Regions from separate parts of the Homo sapiens genome. Here region 1 is linked to region 2. The links come from fine-mapping of genetic effects on gene expression. Tissue or cell type: whole blood. Region 2 holds a variant in brackets; the other region holds the start of a gene. All regions are shown on one strand. Distances are between the middles of the regions.

Region 1 (8,137 bases), 72 kb before region 2:
GTCGTCAGACTCCTGGCCTCAAGTGAACCTCCCAAGTAGCTAGGACTACAGGCACATGCCACCACATCTGGCTAACTTTTTTATTTTTTGTAGAAGTGGAGGTCTCACTATGTTGCCCAGGCTTGTCTTGAATCCCTGGGCTCAAGCAATCCTCCCACCTTAGCATCTAAAAGTGCTGGGATTACAGCCATGAGCCATCTCGCCTGGTCTCAGTGTGCCTTTTAATCTCTGGATTTGGCATCATTACTCATTTATGCCCCCCAACACACACACACACACACCCCCCACAGGCAGATACATACACCCTGTGGTGACCTGGAGGGAGCTCCTGCCTGATGCAAAGGGCCTTCACATGCTCTGGAAAGACTGTAGAGGAACACAGCAGAAGGCCAGTCCTCCAGAATAAACATGAGACATTTGGCACCAATTAAAGAAAAAAAAAAAAGGGCCCCTGGTTTTTCCTTCTTCCAGAGATGATTTGAAGAACTACCTGGCTGGTTTTGCAACCGGTAGTAGATAAAAGGGTAAGAAATATGGAATGAAAATGGCAAGTGATATGAGCTTCTTAAAAAGGAATAGTTTGGGAAGCTAAAGATTTAAAGTACAGAATAGATTGAGGGGTCCATTATTGCTCTTATAGCACCATCTCTAGCTTAAAGGGTTCAAGGTCTCCATAAAAGATGGGGCAAGAAGTAAGGATAACCAAGCAGAAATTGTGGACTCAACCCCTCTCCCTGAAGCTGCTTCCTTCCCTGATTTCTTCTCCCATTTCTTACTTCACTGCAAAGTTTTGCTCCTGCCCTGGATTGAATCACGCCTATCACTGGGAATGAATTTCCCTTTCCCCACACCCTTTTCTTTTGAGCTTTCCCAGCTCCAGTCCCATCTAATGTCTAAGCCAAGATGGCAGTCATGGCCCACGTACCAGCAGGTTGCTTTCCGTGGTGAGGTCCTGACACTGGCTGCTCTCCAGGCACCAGCCACGCACTTCCATGGAGGCCTGAAGCAGCAAGGCCAGCAACAGGGCCCCCGAGCGGCTGCAGCACGATCTCGGCATCTTCCAGGCAGGCTGAGGCTCTGCAGAAGCAAACAAGATTGGTGGGACCCCTGCAAGGAGCAAAACAATGTTGGCCACTCACCAGGAAGGACCTTGAGCCAACATTAACAACACACTCTCTTGTGGAGTTAAAGGCATTTTAAGGACAGCAGCAATGCTGAGAAAGGAGGTGTGCAGTACAGCGGTGGTATAAGTTGTGATAAGGAGGAGGGAATGGTGGGTAAACTGTGACCATTTCCCTGTTATCTTCTATTTAAACGAGACCCCTAAAAAGGTTAAGGCTGGAAGCTATTTTGGGGATTGCTTGGTTCAGCCCTTCCCATGAGAGATGGGAAAATTGAAGCCCAAAGAGAGACAATTACTTTAATGTCCATGACAAGGTAAGGCTAAGCTCCTAACAGAGAACTTTCCTATTTCACTACATTAAGCTGTAGTTCTAACATGCAAGATCTCAGGAGTGAAAGTAACTTGGGAAAAACGGAGGACCCTGAAACTCCTGCTCAAGATGGTCTTTTCCCTTTTTATTCCACCAGGATCCTATCATTCCTCTGAAACTCTATTTCCTATGAATATTAGGTTGACAGAAAAGCAAATAAAACCACTGGCCAATTTAGGCAGCATTTCGAGCAGCCTGATTTGATGTCCTGCACACAAATTACTCTGGTGATCACTATTACCCAGACTCCAGTAACTTTGGAGAGCTTCGTTTTTAAAGCAGATCTCAGTTCTTTGAAATCTGGCTCATCTTCTGGACACGTCACGTGTCAGATGTCTTGTTCTCTAGAGCTCTCAAATGTGGTCTGAAATGGCAGGATTTGAAGAGGATGCAGATGTGGAGGGGAAAGAGACCAGAAGGGAATTACCTCCTGGTGGAACAGCCACTGCAGATACTTTTGGAGAATCCAGCAAGTGCCTGTGGGCAGAAGCTGAGGTCAAGACACCAGGGGACAGTAAGGAGGGGGCATCCATGGTGCCCCTAGCCCCCTGTACCCACCCCTCTCTCCAGCACTACCCTCGCACTGCCAAATTTCCCTTAACCAGGTGGGCCCCCTGAAGCCACCTCGAGGCCGGAGATCAGCTCACCGCCAACCCTACAATCATTTTGGATTTCAGAAGATCTTCTCAGCCAGCTGCTAGAAAGAAATGTAATTAGATGAGAAAAGTAATTCACATTAAAGCGTGGATGACTAAGTGTCTTGTCACTCCTAATGAACGCTGGCATTTTAAAATAAGTTTGCCTAAAATAAATCTCTCATTTGGGGAGGCGTGGGCCAAATCTTTTTTATATAGGGGAGGCTTTGGAAGTGAAAGTCCTCTGAAGCGCTGATTTCTACTTCAGGAGGCCACTTCCTTCTCTCTACCCCACCCTCGCCCTATTCCCCAGGCGCTGGGCCTGCACGGTGCTAGCTTCTGAAGGGTTGCCGGGCAAGGCTGAGCATTTTCAGAGCAGCCATTAGATGGCACTGGCAGCCAGTGACTGGCCCAGGTGCGCTTCGGCTAAAGGGGCAACTGAACGAGCTTTGGTCAACCTTGGTGTCCTCTCCTGGCTCCAAGGGACAGGCTGTTCCCATTGTACCCTGCCAGTGATCTATTCAAGTACACAGCCAGAACTTGGTGGACCAGGCAATTAGATTAAAGCTCCAAGTTGACCATAGCACATTTAGCTCTGAAAAATGCCCAGATGTTACAGTCACAGAAAAATGGTAGTTACGTATGTCACCAAATGCAAATGTAAAGTAACATATTAGTAAAGGAAAAAACAAAATCTTACAGGTCTGATAGTTCCCTCAATTATATTTCAATTCTTGTCAAAGATAACTACTCTGGAGTGATTTCCATTTGCTAGAAGCAATGACTTCAGGCCTTCCTGGAAAGCCCCAGAGAGCATTTCCCCTCCTTATGCCCTATGTGCTGTGTTGTACAATGTGGTAACATATTCACTCCCACCCTCTCAGAGCTTATATTCTGTTGCTAAACTGGTTAGATGGCTGCTATTGCTAAAACTTCAGATTCTTCCCTGAAAGATGGTCTTGTGTTTGTATTGTATATTTTGCTTATGTGTATGTGTATTTGCTTATGTGTATTTTCAGTTCTCTACAATGAACAAATAGTACCTTTTGTGTCATTTTTAAAGCAACAAATTATTGGGGAAATATCAAATGTTGTGCTTTTTTAAGTAGGGAAAGTATTATAATCCAAAAATGGAAAGCTCTGGAAAAATAGAAACTTGAAATTTGCTCATCCTGAGATTAACTTTATAGTAGAACTACACTTATTAGAACTTCATAGGTGTGAGGGGCTCTCTATGAGCTCAACAAATCATTTTGCTTGTTACTGTAAAACTGCACGCTGGCCATGACCTTTTGTAAAGATTAGAGGAGCACAGGGGCCGAGTTTTGTCCTTACACCATGACATACATGCATCGAGTCCTATAACAAAAGCATCAAAGGAACAGTAAGTCATTAAAGTGGCCATAATCTGTGCAGAGTTTATAAACTGACACACACACAAAAAAAATCCACACACACTTTTATTTTCCTTGGCTCCTTCCAGCCATTCTGTAAGAACCCTCCCTGCCCCATTTAAACATGAAGAATTTGGGGAATCCAAATGCCAAGTGGACTGTCTCTCCTTCGCTGGAAACGCCCCTTACCTGAGCCTTGATCATTCCAAATGGCTGCCCGTGCCCTCAACCCAGGATCTGCGCCATAAACCGTCCACCCCGGTTCTGTTGAGGGCATCCGAAACTAGACAGTGCGTTTCAGGATCTAGGACAGCTCCCGCCCCGGCCACCTGTTTTTAACCCCAGCTAGGTCTTGGAGAGAAGAGACCCAACTATTCTGCATTGTAATTGACCCAGTTATCATGTAATTATCATAGCGCGGCCACCTCGGGTGCGCTAAGGTGGGCAAGGAAACAAGGATTCAGGGGTCTGAATCCGAAAAAATCCGGAAGGCAGGGCGTTCATTATGACTTTTATCCTTTTCTCTGCTGCCCCGTTTCCAACATTAATTTGCGATAGCGTGTATGGAATTTGACTTTCAAGATGTGACACCTATCCTGGAAACTGGGAGCAAGAGATACTAAAAGACCGGGCTGGCCGGGGGCGGTGGCTCGCGCCTGTAATGCCAGAACTTTGGGGGGCCAAGGCGGGCGGATCACCTGTTGTCGGGAGTTTGAGACCAGCCTGACCAACATGGAGAAACTCCGTCTCTACTAAAAATACAAAAATTAGCCGGGCGTGGTGGCGCATGCCTGTAATCCCAGCTACTCGGGAGGCTGAAGCAGGAGAATCGCTTGAACCCGGGAGGCGAAGGTTGCGGTGAGCAGAGATCACCCCTTTGCTCTCCAGCATGGGCAACAAGAGCGAAACTCCGTCTCAAAAAAAAAAAAAAAGACCGGGTTGTCCCAAGACCTCCTAGCAAGCTCTCGGAGCCTCCGGACCGCCGCGAGCCCCTGGGGGAGAGGAGGCCGCCGGCTCCCTGGAGACAGCGCCTGCAGCTTCGCGGCCGTCCGCCCAGGGGCCGGACGTGGGCCCTCCAGCTCAGCTACTGGCGGCTTCTCATGCCGCAGTCGGCGCAGAAAGTTTGTCGAGAACTCGGGACCGCGGAGAGCCAGAGGCGCCCAGGTCCGCCTTCGGAGCCGGAGCCGGCCGACTGCATCGCGAGGACGGGGACAGGGGATCCCGGGGAAAGAGCACGGGTCCCCCACGCTGCGCCCTTACCTGTCTCGGGAGGCTGCTCTCTGAGGGCGGGGACGCTCGGCGGCCTCTCTCGGTCGCGGCTCTTCTTCCCCTCCTTCGCCGCCGCTTGGTCCCGCGCTCCTCTGTCCTTATATACTTGCCGAGCTCTCCTGGTGGGCGCGGGACTTTGACCTTCCCGGCAGCACAAGGAGCAGCTCCCCGGGCCAGGGGAAGGGGGGCCGCGGGGCGTGGGAGGGGGGCTTCCAGACGGGGGACGAGCGCGGGGAGACGCGCTGGAAAGGGGCTGGAATTAGCACTGTCCTGCCGAAGGCGCACCTGGCCGCTCGCCCTCAGGAAGAACTTAATTATGGATGGCGTTGGGTCTCCGCTTAGAACGGGCGGGAGGCTTAGCACCCCCGTGTGGGGCAGGCCGGGCAGCCTCTGAGGTCGTTGAGGCGAGGGTGAAGTTACCTGCGTGCGTGCTGGGGCTGGCATCTGCCTGGTTCGCATTTGGCGGTAAATATCACCGTCTGCACACGGGGAGGCCTCCGATTTCCCCATTGTTTGGAAACTGTGATGTGGAAGTCGTGGGGAATCATATTCTCTCTGTTCCACTTTGGGGAGGGGAGGAGGGAGCAGAAGTCAGGAGCCGTCTTGTGGGTGTGAAGGTGAGTTGCACTGCTCCCCTGGGGCCTGCTCTCCAAGGGCCTGGTTTAGGGGAGGCTCCCTTCCGTGTCCCAAGCCTCAAGGAAAAAGTCCTGTTAACCTAAACCATTAAATGGGGAGAGGGTGATGCTGTGAAGAGCAGCTGAAGTGCTTTCCCTGTGGCCTCTGATCCCTCCCTTTGCCATGAGCTGGCAGGGTGGTCTGGGGACTCAGACAATTTTCAACATCCCCCTTGGCCCTGGAGTTCTGGCTTGGCTTTAGTTCCAAATATCAGACCAGAGAGAAGAGTACAGCACTCAAACCAAGCTAAGAGACTCTACCTTAACCTGGAGTAAATAAACAAAACCAAATTGTGCGATGTGGTGGGTGTGGGAGGGAGTATTGGGACTAAACTGGACTTCAAATCAAGACACTTGCTTAATCTGCCAAATGCCAGAACTTTCCTGATTCCCCATGAGATGCTCTTTTGGACTCCAGGACTCTCTTGTGGATTCAGCTTTTCTGGTGACATTGGCTTTACATTCAGCAATCCTTTCCCTTTGGACCACAAGAGAGATCCAAGCTCCGTCACAGTAGACAAGGTGCTTCATCACCCGGCTTTGGCCCCTTTCCAGGGCCATTTCCCAGTTCTCCACCTTGCATCCTGGCACTTCAGCATCCACAACATTCACACTGCTAGAACATGGCTTTCTTGGGTCTCCATTGTCCAAGCTGTTCCCCCAACTAGAACATCCTTCCTCTCTCCAGCCATCCAGGAGCTTGACTCACATCAAGATGTAGCCCATCCATCAGCCCCTGTTCTCTGAAGCCCTCTTTGGCCACTTTTCCTACCAGGGGCATGAGGCATGACCTCCTCTGCCTTCCACAGAAGTCCATCCCCATCTTGTCAGTGCAAGTGGCTTGCACTAATTCACTTCTGTCCCCATTTTTTTAATCTTCCATCCACCCCACGACCACCATCAGGTTTGTAAACTCTTTCAAGCAGATGGTGGTTTTGCCTTATTTTACTTTGTGTTATTTTTGTAACTTCAGGAGGCTGCTGGTGGCAGCAGATAAAACAAACCAGGAAAAATCCAAATGGACCCAACTTCTTTAACTGGGTTCCTTCTTTCTTTTCTTCTCTCTCTCTCTCATTCTGTTTGTTTGTTTTTGAATTAGGGTCTCACTCTGTTGCCCAGGCTGGAATGCAGCAGTGTGAACACTGCTCACTGCAGCCTCCACCTCCTGGGCTCAAGTGATCCTCATGCTTCAGCCTCCTGAGTACCTGGAACCACAGATGCATGCCACCATGCCCAGCTAATTTTGGGTTTTGGTTTTTTGTTTTGTTTTTGTTTTTGTTTTTGGTAGAGACAGGGTTTCACTATGTTGCCTAGGCTGGTCTCAAGCTCCTGGGCTCAAGTAATCCACATCAGTATCCTGAAGTGCTGGGATTACAGGTGTTAGCCACCACACCCAGCCCAGTTTCTTAATTTAATGCAGCAGAACCTGCTTTGGCCTCCATGAACTGAAAGGCCATTGAACTGCATTTAGAATCACTGGGTAGGCGGGGCACAGTGGCTCACGCCTGTAATCCCAGCACTCTGGGAGGCTGAGTTGGGCAGATCACGAGGTCAAGAGATGGAGACATTCCTGGCCAAGATGGCGAAACCCCGTCTCTACTAAAAATACAAAAATTAGCCGGGCGTGGTGGCGCACACCTGTAGTCCCAGCTACTCGGGTGGCTGAGGCAGGAGAATCGCTTGAACCTGGGAGGCGGAGGTTGCGGTGAGCCGAGATCGCGCCACTGCACTCCAGCCTGGCGACACAGCAAGACTCCATCTAAAAAAAAAAAAAAATCACTGGGCAGGTTGGGGGACCAGGATCTAAAAATGGGCAGGGACACAGTGTGGCTGGAACCATGGCCAAAATCACATCCAGTGGAGAAAAAAAAAACAGACCACAAGGGGCCACAAGGGGCATGTCAAGACCACAGGCGTCTGACATAGACGTCACTTCTGTCCCCAGGATGGGACGCTGCCATTCTCACTTCAGCTAATGCCACTAGAAAGGAGTCACCACTGCCCTTGCATCCTTGTACCACTAGCTCCTCTTTGAAAGCCTAGAACAGGTGCCTTTGATTGTCTGACATGACATAATTTTTCACCTTTATTCTAGTAATGTGGTGAATTATTGCATTGTTGATTTTTTGGTGTTAAACCTACCATGGCTTCTTAGATTAAACCCAATTTGATTATGATGTATTATCCTTATACAGAAAGCACTGGACTCAATTTGCTAATATTTTATTTAAGACATTTGCATTGATGTTCATGAGATGGGCCTGTAATTTTCCTTTCTTGTGGAATTCTTGTCTAATTTGAGTATCAAAAAATTATGCTGTTCTCATAAAACAAGTTGGAAATCCATCTTCCCTCCCCCTTTTTATAATTAAGTAGAATAATTTGCGTATAATGGTGTTATCTCGTCCTTAAATGTTTGGGATGATTCACCAGTGATGCCATCTAAATCTTTAAGATTGTTTGTTCATTGAAGTTTTTAATTACAGAATCAATCCTTTCAGCTGGAGCTGGAAAAAAGAAGGAAAAATGTTTTAAACCATTACAAATTCAATTACTTAAGTGGCACTATTTCAATTGTCTACTTCTTCATGTGTCAGTTTGAGTCAGATATGTATTTCTAGGAATTTGTCTATTTCATCTAAATTCTTTAATTTATTGGCTTAAAATTGTTT
Region 2 (8,000 bases):
TGCTGAACTAGATGAAGAGGAGAAAAGAGGAATAAGCACGAATTCATTCACCAGCCAACACTGGTCATGCGTCTACCAAATATGCCAGGTACTCGCCAAACCCTGACAGGGCCTGGTCCACCCAGGGGGCTGGGTATGGCTCTGAGTGAGCAGAGTTCGCAGGGCAGGAGCCTCCACAGACCCCACAGCCTCACTTTTCTTCCTACTTGGAGGTCACCTGGCCAATCTTAGATCCATCTAGCCACAGACTTTTTTTTTTTTTTTTGAGACGGAGTCTCGCTCTGTCACCCAGGCTGGACTGCAGTGGTGCGATCTCAGCTCACTGTAACCTCCACCTCCCGGGTTCAAGCGATTCTAATGCCTCAGACTCCTGAGTAGCTGGGACTACAGGCGCCCGCCACCATGCCTGGCTAATTTTTATATTTTTAGTCAGACAGGGTTTCACCGTGTCGGCCAGGCTGGTCTCAAACTCCTGACCTCAGGTGATCCGCCTGCCTCGGCCTCCCAAAGTATTGGGATTATAGGCGTGAGCCACCGCACCCGGCCTAGCCACAGACTTTAGAAGTAGAAGCTGTAGCCACTGTACTTTCCAAGTCTTCCAAAGAATTAGTTCTTTCAGAGATGGAGTAACTTGTAGGCTAAAGGATGCCAAGTTACTGAGGGGCTCAAAGATGCCCTCGGAGCTGCCAGTGGTTCTGAATGCTGGAACCTGCTGACACAGAACCCAGTGCCCCAGGTAGTCACTCCGGGAGATTCCAGCTCCAGAGAGAAATGGAGCTTCCACATCACAGGAGGCTGCTTTGAGGGCTTTTGTAATAGGTTTTGGCCAAAAAATTTAAAAATGAAAAAAAAGCCACAGCACAACCAGGTCTTGGTAAAGACTCCTCAGTGTCTACCGGGGGTGATGGGCGACACTCACCAGGGAGGAAGGGCTGAAGGCCAGCAGCCCTGGGCCCTCCTCTGGCTGCCCTGCTGCATGACCCTGCACCGTCTCCTAAATTGCATTCTCCACACTAGCTGGAGAAGCAGGCGGGACAAGGCCCTGGCCACCGCTCCACCTCATCCTGCCCTTCCTTCTCCCTGCCCCCCAGCAGAGGTTCTAGACGCTGGAGCTGACCTTGGCTATCCTGCCATGCTCCAGACACTCCTGCAGCTCCAGCTTATCATTCACAGTGGATGCCAACGGCCTAGGAGGCAGAAGAGAGACTGTAACAACAGAAACCTGGATAACAGCGGGAAGGGCCCCAGCTGCACGACTCCCCTCCCTCCCCCAGCAGCCACTAGTTCACAGGGTAAGAGCCCCTTCCCCAAATCACGCACACACGTCATAACTCTCTTCAAACTCCCCGCAAACACACGAACACACACTGCAGCCATGCAAAGACACAAATCCACCAAGCGTTAATCCTTAAAGGTAAATTCAAAAGTGGTCTCAAATTGTGAACAGGCAGATAACACCTAGCAGAAAAAGAAAAAAAAAGCACAGCTATCTTTACATCAGTTAGTCTAAAATACACTGAGCTTTAAGCGTCCCACTGCGAAGCAAGCTTTGGGGGTGACAATGTTCTGTATCTTGATTTGTGGTGATTGTTACACGGGTGTGTCCACTGGATGAAATTAATCAAACCGCAAGCCTTAAATGTACTGCTTTAAAAGACTAAATTCTGGGCCAGGCGCAGTGGCTCATGCCTGCAATCCCAGCCCTTTGGAAGGCTGAGGCAGGCGGGTCACCTGAGGTCAGGAGTTTGAGTCCATCCTGATCAACATGGTGAAACCCGGTCTCTACTAATATAAAAATTAGCCAGACGTGGTGGCAGGTGCCTGTAATCCCAGCTACTCGGGAGGCTGAGGCAGGAGAATCGCTTGAACCTGGGAGGCGGAGGCTGCAGTGAGCCAGGATGGCACCACTGCACTCCAGCCTGGGCGACAGAGCAAGACTCTGTCTCCAAAAAAAAAAAAAACCAGACTTAAATTCTGCAGTTCCCTAAAGACCAAAAATTCTGTGACATTAAATATGTCACTTCTCAGGGTGCAGGCCACATAACTGACTGGCTGTCCCCTTCAACGCTGACCTTTTCTGACATGTAAGGATATTTAAGGAAGGCTTCCCTGAGCACTGGCTCCAGGATCTCAGTGTGGGAACCACGGGGCCTGCAGTCAAATCAGGTGCTCGACAGATGTCCCCGACTCTTTATGCGTGCACTGCCCAGTCGGCCCTGCATGCAGGACCTCTGCTCCTCCTAGAAGCTCAGAGTTTAGTATTTTAGAGTTGAAAGAAGCAGGCGAGAAATCCCACAGGACCAAGGTCTGTCGGGAGACACTGAGTGGTTCCATGAAAATACTGGACCTCATTAGCCCATCCATTTCCCAATATGCACATGTATCTTGGGAACTCTCGGGGGACAGTTTCAGGCCAGCTGCCCCAATGCCCCATCTCCTTCCCCTCAACAAGCCCTCGATAGCAACTCTACCAAACATGTATGAGATGGGGAAGGTCCTACAACCTCATGGGAATAGCAAGGAGGGAGATTATTTGACCGAGGCCAGGTGAAATGATGTCTCCTAGTTATACCAAGTATACCAAGCAGCCCACCATGGAGGTTTAACACCCATGACTCAGAACACTCTGGAAAACGCTTCCCTCCACAATGGACAGGGACTGAGCGGCTCTCAGCATGCTTTTGAATTGCCAACTCTGGACAATTTATTTCGCCTAAAAAGCCTTTTTATAATGCCAGTTTTATAACTGATGAAATGAATTTTCTTCATTCCTAGATATTAAAATCTTTATCTGTGTAACCTAACTGAAGAAAATCTCTCCAAAAAAGGACCTGAAGCCAACAAAGTGTGTGATTAGTAAAATTAAGTTAAGCAGAACCCTGAACTTGCATGCAGCCGCTGCAAGATTCCCTCTCCTGGAACAGGCTGTGGCCACAACTCCCCTTCCCAGCCCCAAAGCCATGCCCCATGGCTTTGCCTCAGGAGAATCTAAGAACCAGAGGGCTCGGGACACATCACCAATGTCAGAAAACCAACTACCTAACTCAGCAGCACAGGACTCTTCTTTGGTATAAAGAGAGTACTTTTA[A/G]AGGTCCTGCTTTAAGACCACTAGTTGTTGGTTTCAGACGAGTATTTTCTATACCCTGACTCCTCTTCCTCCTCAAGGAAAAGGAAATAAGGAACATGGCAGAGCAGCTAGTCATTCAGCAGAGGCCGGCCAGAGAGGGCCCGGCTCAGGGGCTTCCCCACTATGGGTCATCCCACCTGCAGTCCCAGCCCACAGCCCCCCAGGCCCAGGAGCTTTCACCAACCTGTTCATACCGGGAAGGTTACCCCAGAAGTAGCGGGCCCTGTGTGCAGCTGACACTTCTTTGGCATCAATCATCACAGGGTTGGACTACAAAACAGGAGACGGTTTGAAGATGAGCCAAGGAGGAGCATGAAACAGCGCCGGCATGCTGCTGGGGTCGAGCCTTAAAGCCTCAAAGCCTCTTACTTCTCTCTCAGGAGCCACACACTGGGCTAGCCTGCAGCCTCCAGGAGAAGCTGGAATTACACCTAGCCACATTCCACAAGCTGTCACTGGAACGTTCTAGATCAGCATTGTCCAAATGAACTTCTGCGATGGTGGGTTGTCCTCTACACTGTTCAATTCAGTGGCCACTAGCCCACTAGTACAGGTGGCTATTTTGTACCTAAAATGAGGCCAATGTGATTGAGGAGCTGAATGGTTAATGTTAATGTAAACAGCCGCATGTGGCTGGTGGCTACCATATTGCACAGTGCTGCTCTAGACTACCCAGAGGCTGGGAGAGCCCAGGCTCCAGCGAGTATGGGTGTGTTTACCATGAGCCCTGATTAGAACTCAAACAGACGCCTGCTCACACTTACAGTCAGAACACCAGCTCACAGTGTGACCCACCCCAAGACTCAGGAGCACAGGTGGGCTCAAGCTCCCAGAAGGGCCACTCCAAGCACGCCTCTGGCAGCAGAAGCCCTCTGCACGCGGCTCAGACTTGGCTCAGGGTTAAACGGGGACTCACATGATAAGGAATGAAAACTGAGCTAAGTCTTGTTTTCTTCTCAGGTGCCTGTCATGGTACCAGGGAGTGAGGATAGGCCCTTCTTGCTCAGGGAAAACTGATTTTGTCCTCTCAAAGATCCTGGTGTGTAACAAACACCATACAGAATACCCAACCCCAGGAGTCTGGCACCCCACCTGATTGAGTGACAGGTCCTTCAACCCCGGAGGTCCACACCCACAATGCCACCTCTTAGAGTGAGACCACTGGTTCTTTCCGAGGTAGGCCTCTAACCCTGCTTCCTCCCTTTCTATCCAGGAAGCCTGGGGCTTCCCAAACAGGCCCCTTGCAAAGCAGAAGTCACCAGTCCCCAGCTCCACAATGCAGATGAGACAGGATGAAGCAGCAGTCCAAGGTAGAAGCCATTAGTGAGCTGGCCAAACCAAGGTTGCTGGCTATACCTCGAGAAATCGCGAGATGTCCCTCTTGTCACTAACGCCCATGGCCACCACATTCTCAAAGAGCCAGAAGAAGGGGCGATCATCTCCCTCCTTGGGCCGCGCATCATGCAGGAGGCGGTAGAACTCAAAGAAGAGCCGGCCAGTGCCCTCTGAGAGGTCGGAAGAGAAAGCCATCAGCTGGGGCTGTCTGCATAGGACAGTGGTGTGGCTCGGGCACGGGGAGGGCACGGGAAGACAGGGTCATCGGGAATAGCTGTCCCAGGGCAGAAATATCCAAGGAGGAAGCCTATGTGCGGAAGCACCAGCTGAGAAGGTGGAGGGGACAGGATGGTACCTACCGTAGAGGCCCTTGCGAGCAGGGTTGACGATGGAGAGGTCATTGCAGGGACTGCCCCCAATCACCAGATCGAATGGGCCCCACTCCTGGATCTGGGAGGATAAAGGCAACGTGATGGGCCTGCTGTCCAGGGACAGAGGCAGACAGGAAGAAAGAGAAATTATCTGTGAACTTGGCAAAGAAGTCCTTTGACACGAAAGAGAGGAGACCCAGCTGCTCTGCAGGCTCACGACCCTAGCTGCAACCATGGACAAGTCCTAAACAAGAACGGGACCAAGTTGGATCATTTCTTAGGCCAATGGGGAAACTAGTATCACCCAGGCAGGCAACACAGCCACCCACTGGGAAGGTGACCCAAGTGGACGGCTGAGTCTGAAGGTACCTGGCATGCTGAGTGTCTTAGGCAGGGTGTCTGGGCCATGTGAATGTCCTCCAGTTGCCCTTCAGGACTCCAGAGGGCCTGTAGTCATGCTTAAGGGAAGACCCTGCCTGAGCCTCCCAGATATGGAAGCTGATAAAGCTATTTGCCAAAAGTATTGGGAGGACAGGAACCTCTCTCTAATCCAAAGAGCTCTACTAGAAACTGTCCAGAAACCAGCCCAGGGAGTAGCCAGAGCTCAAGTAGGCACTATGTTGCCCAAGCTAGTCTTAAACCCCTGGCCTCAAGGGATTCTCCTACCTTGGCCTCCCAAAGTGCTGGCATTATAGGCATGAGCCACCATGCCTAGCCCAAATTCCCATTTCAATTTGCCCTTTACCCTCTCAAGACAGAGGACAAATGGAAGATAAGGAGAAAAAGAGGCTGGGGCAAAGGGTGAAGAGAAAGAGGGCAAATGAACAAAATGAAAGGAGGCAAGGGCTGCCTCCAGGTGCTGAGTGTGCAGGGAGGGGAAGACGGGCTGCGCCCCACAGCATGGACATACATGCTTCTGTGTGACGCTGCGGACGTCCCCGACGTACATGATCTTCCCCTGGTGCCGCACCATGCCCACCGTGATGGAGTCCTCACACACCTCCGAGGCAATGTAGCGGTCCACCTGAATGCCCAAGTCCTTCAGCACCAGGAGCCCTGCACCAGCCAGCAGACAGCACCGTTACTTGGAGCCATCTCCCTGGCACCCTGGTCTCGGCAGGTGAGCCTGCTGGCCAACAGGACCCATGGGGTCAGCTGTAGGCCCAAGTCCTATCTTTTCCCTGAAGATGCCTTAAATCCTTTCTGGATCCAACTGGAGTATCCATAGTAAGGACATCGAGGCTCTGTCTCATGCCTCGTTTGGCCTATCTGGAAGGCAGTCAAAGCTGCAGAAAACTGACCGGAGAGTACATGGTTCCAGGATCCAGGAAGAATCACAGCTGACTTTTTGGGGGCCTTTTCTTTGTTGTTGTCCGTCTACAACTTGGTCCTTCCATACCCTCTTATCACCTCCTGCTACAATTCTACCCCACCCTTTGACTCAACCTGAATGTTCCCTGCTCCACAAAGGTTTCATAAATGCCCTGCCCCACCCAGTAGCCCCTGGAATCACCGCCCCCTCCGCTATGAGTCCCCAGCTCTGTGCATCCCTTGCCTCCCCATCAGAGCAGTTTCCATTCCTCACTCAGCCCTCTCGTGGATTGCAAAGGCTCTTCCAGACAGAGGAGGCCTCCTTCATTGTGCTTCCCCCGAGCTAACCACACAGATTTCCTTACCACGATCCCTCCCCCTCCAGAAATGCTAGCCGAACTGAGGCAAGGAAACAATCAGAGCAGATCCCGAGAGGGTCTCGGGAGAAACAGGGTACGGCACTGTTTCTGCTGCTCCCAACATGTCCCCCAGCCAAGGAGCTTTTACAGCCTCCTGGGGTGTGACATGATTTAAGAAGGCCTCAAGGTTCCAGTCTGGGATACAAAAAGCTGTAAATGAACTTCTCTAGGTTTACAGAAGAGCAGCATGGAGCTGAGAACAGAAGACAAACATCTGGCCGGGGAAGCCATCCCCTCCGCCTCACCCTCTAACCAGGGTCCCTGGGTTGAGACTGCCTATCTCCCTCTGGCCAAAGACATGAATTCTAAGAAGAGCTATTCCTTTCTTAAAAGCCGGGAAGCCCTTGGCTGGGGGGGCAGGGCAGAGGGGTGGATGTGTCTTCACAATCTCCTAGGACGCTTTCTGCAGTGTCCAGAGTCACATGAAGCAAACAATGCCTGCAGGGTGACCCAGCATCTCCTAAAGGTTTTCCTAAGGAGGGAATGGTTCAAGTATATATTCTATCAGGATGCTTGTCACAGCACTACTTATAATAATAATAAAAAAAATAGTAAATGACCTAATAGGGGTTCGTTAAATAAATTACGGCACTTTGACTCAATGGAACCTTACGCAACACTTACAAATAAAGAATGTAGCTTTGGCCGGGTCTGGTGGCTCATGCCTGTAATCCCAGCACTTTGGGAGGCCGAGGTGGGCGGATCACAAGGTCAAGAGATCGAGACCAGCCTGGCCAACACGGTGAAACACCGTCTCTACTAAAAACACAAAAATTAGCTGGGCGTGGTGGTGGGTGCCTGCAGTCCCAGCTACTCGGGAGGCTGAGGCAGGAGAACTGCTTGAACCCAGGAGGCAGAGGTTGCAGTGGGCCAAGATGGCACCACTGCACTCCAGCCTGGGCAACAGACTCCGTCTCAAAAAAAAAAAAAAAAATGTAGCTTTATATCGCTTGACATGAAAAAGCAATCATAATATAATAAATGCAAGGCAAGTTACAAAACCGTGTGCATTCACTACCCACTTAATTTATCTATCTATGGATGTATGGTTATATAAACACAAACGCACAGAAAAAAATCTGAAAAGGACATATGCCAAAATATTAATAAAAGGATAATGGGTGATTTAAATAAGTCTTCTTTAGACTATCTTGTGTATAATCAAAACACAACAGAACTGTGTATGTTTCTGTCTTGCTGAATCTGTCCTTTGAGGCTCTGTGAAATCTCTGTGAATCTGACTAATGATCACTCGGCCTCTGTGGCTGAATCTTCCTTACTAAGGAAGCGCCCAGCAGGCAGGCTGCTTTACCACCTGTTTTACTTTTTTATTTTTGGTCAAATCTAAGTCCACGGACTGCATACGTTTCCACTTCACACACAAGCTTCCCCTTTGGGATAATATTTTAACAGCTGTGAAGCTAACCATCATTTCGT

The links. PIP is the estimated chance that this variant, and not a neighbour inherited with it, causes the effect.
Region 1: POMC starts here. The variant in region 2 is fine-mapped to the expression of POMC in whole blood (TOPMed, PIP above 0.99).

What each region holds. Positions count from the first base shown.
Region 1 is chr2:25,163,716-25,171,852 of GRCh38, forward strand. It overlaps POMC (proopiomelanocortin), which reads right to left and starts at 4,865. Exons shown (of 3, transcript NM_000939.4): 1 at 4,783-4,865; 2 at 926-1,077. The coding sequence starts at 1,057. RefSeq lists a promoter at 4,739-5,551, cis regulatory regions at 4,890-4,902, 4,968-5,141, 5,142-5,167 and an enhancer at 4,962-4,981.
Region 2 is chr2:25,235,819-25,243,818 of GRCh38, forward strand. DNMT3A (DNA methyltransferase 3 alpha) reads right to left here. Exons shown (of 23, transcript NM_022552.5): 17 at 5,744-5,889; 18 at 4,822-4,912; 19 at 4,484-4,632; 20 at 3,312-3,397; 21 at 1,118-1,187; 22 at 1-7. Among named protein-coding and RNA genes, the nearest start is that of LINC01381, 36 kb to the left of the region's middle. The variant A/G (reference allele first, on the strand shown) is at 3,089.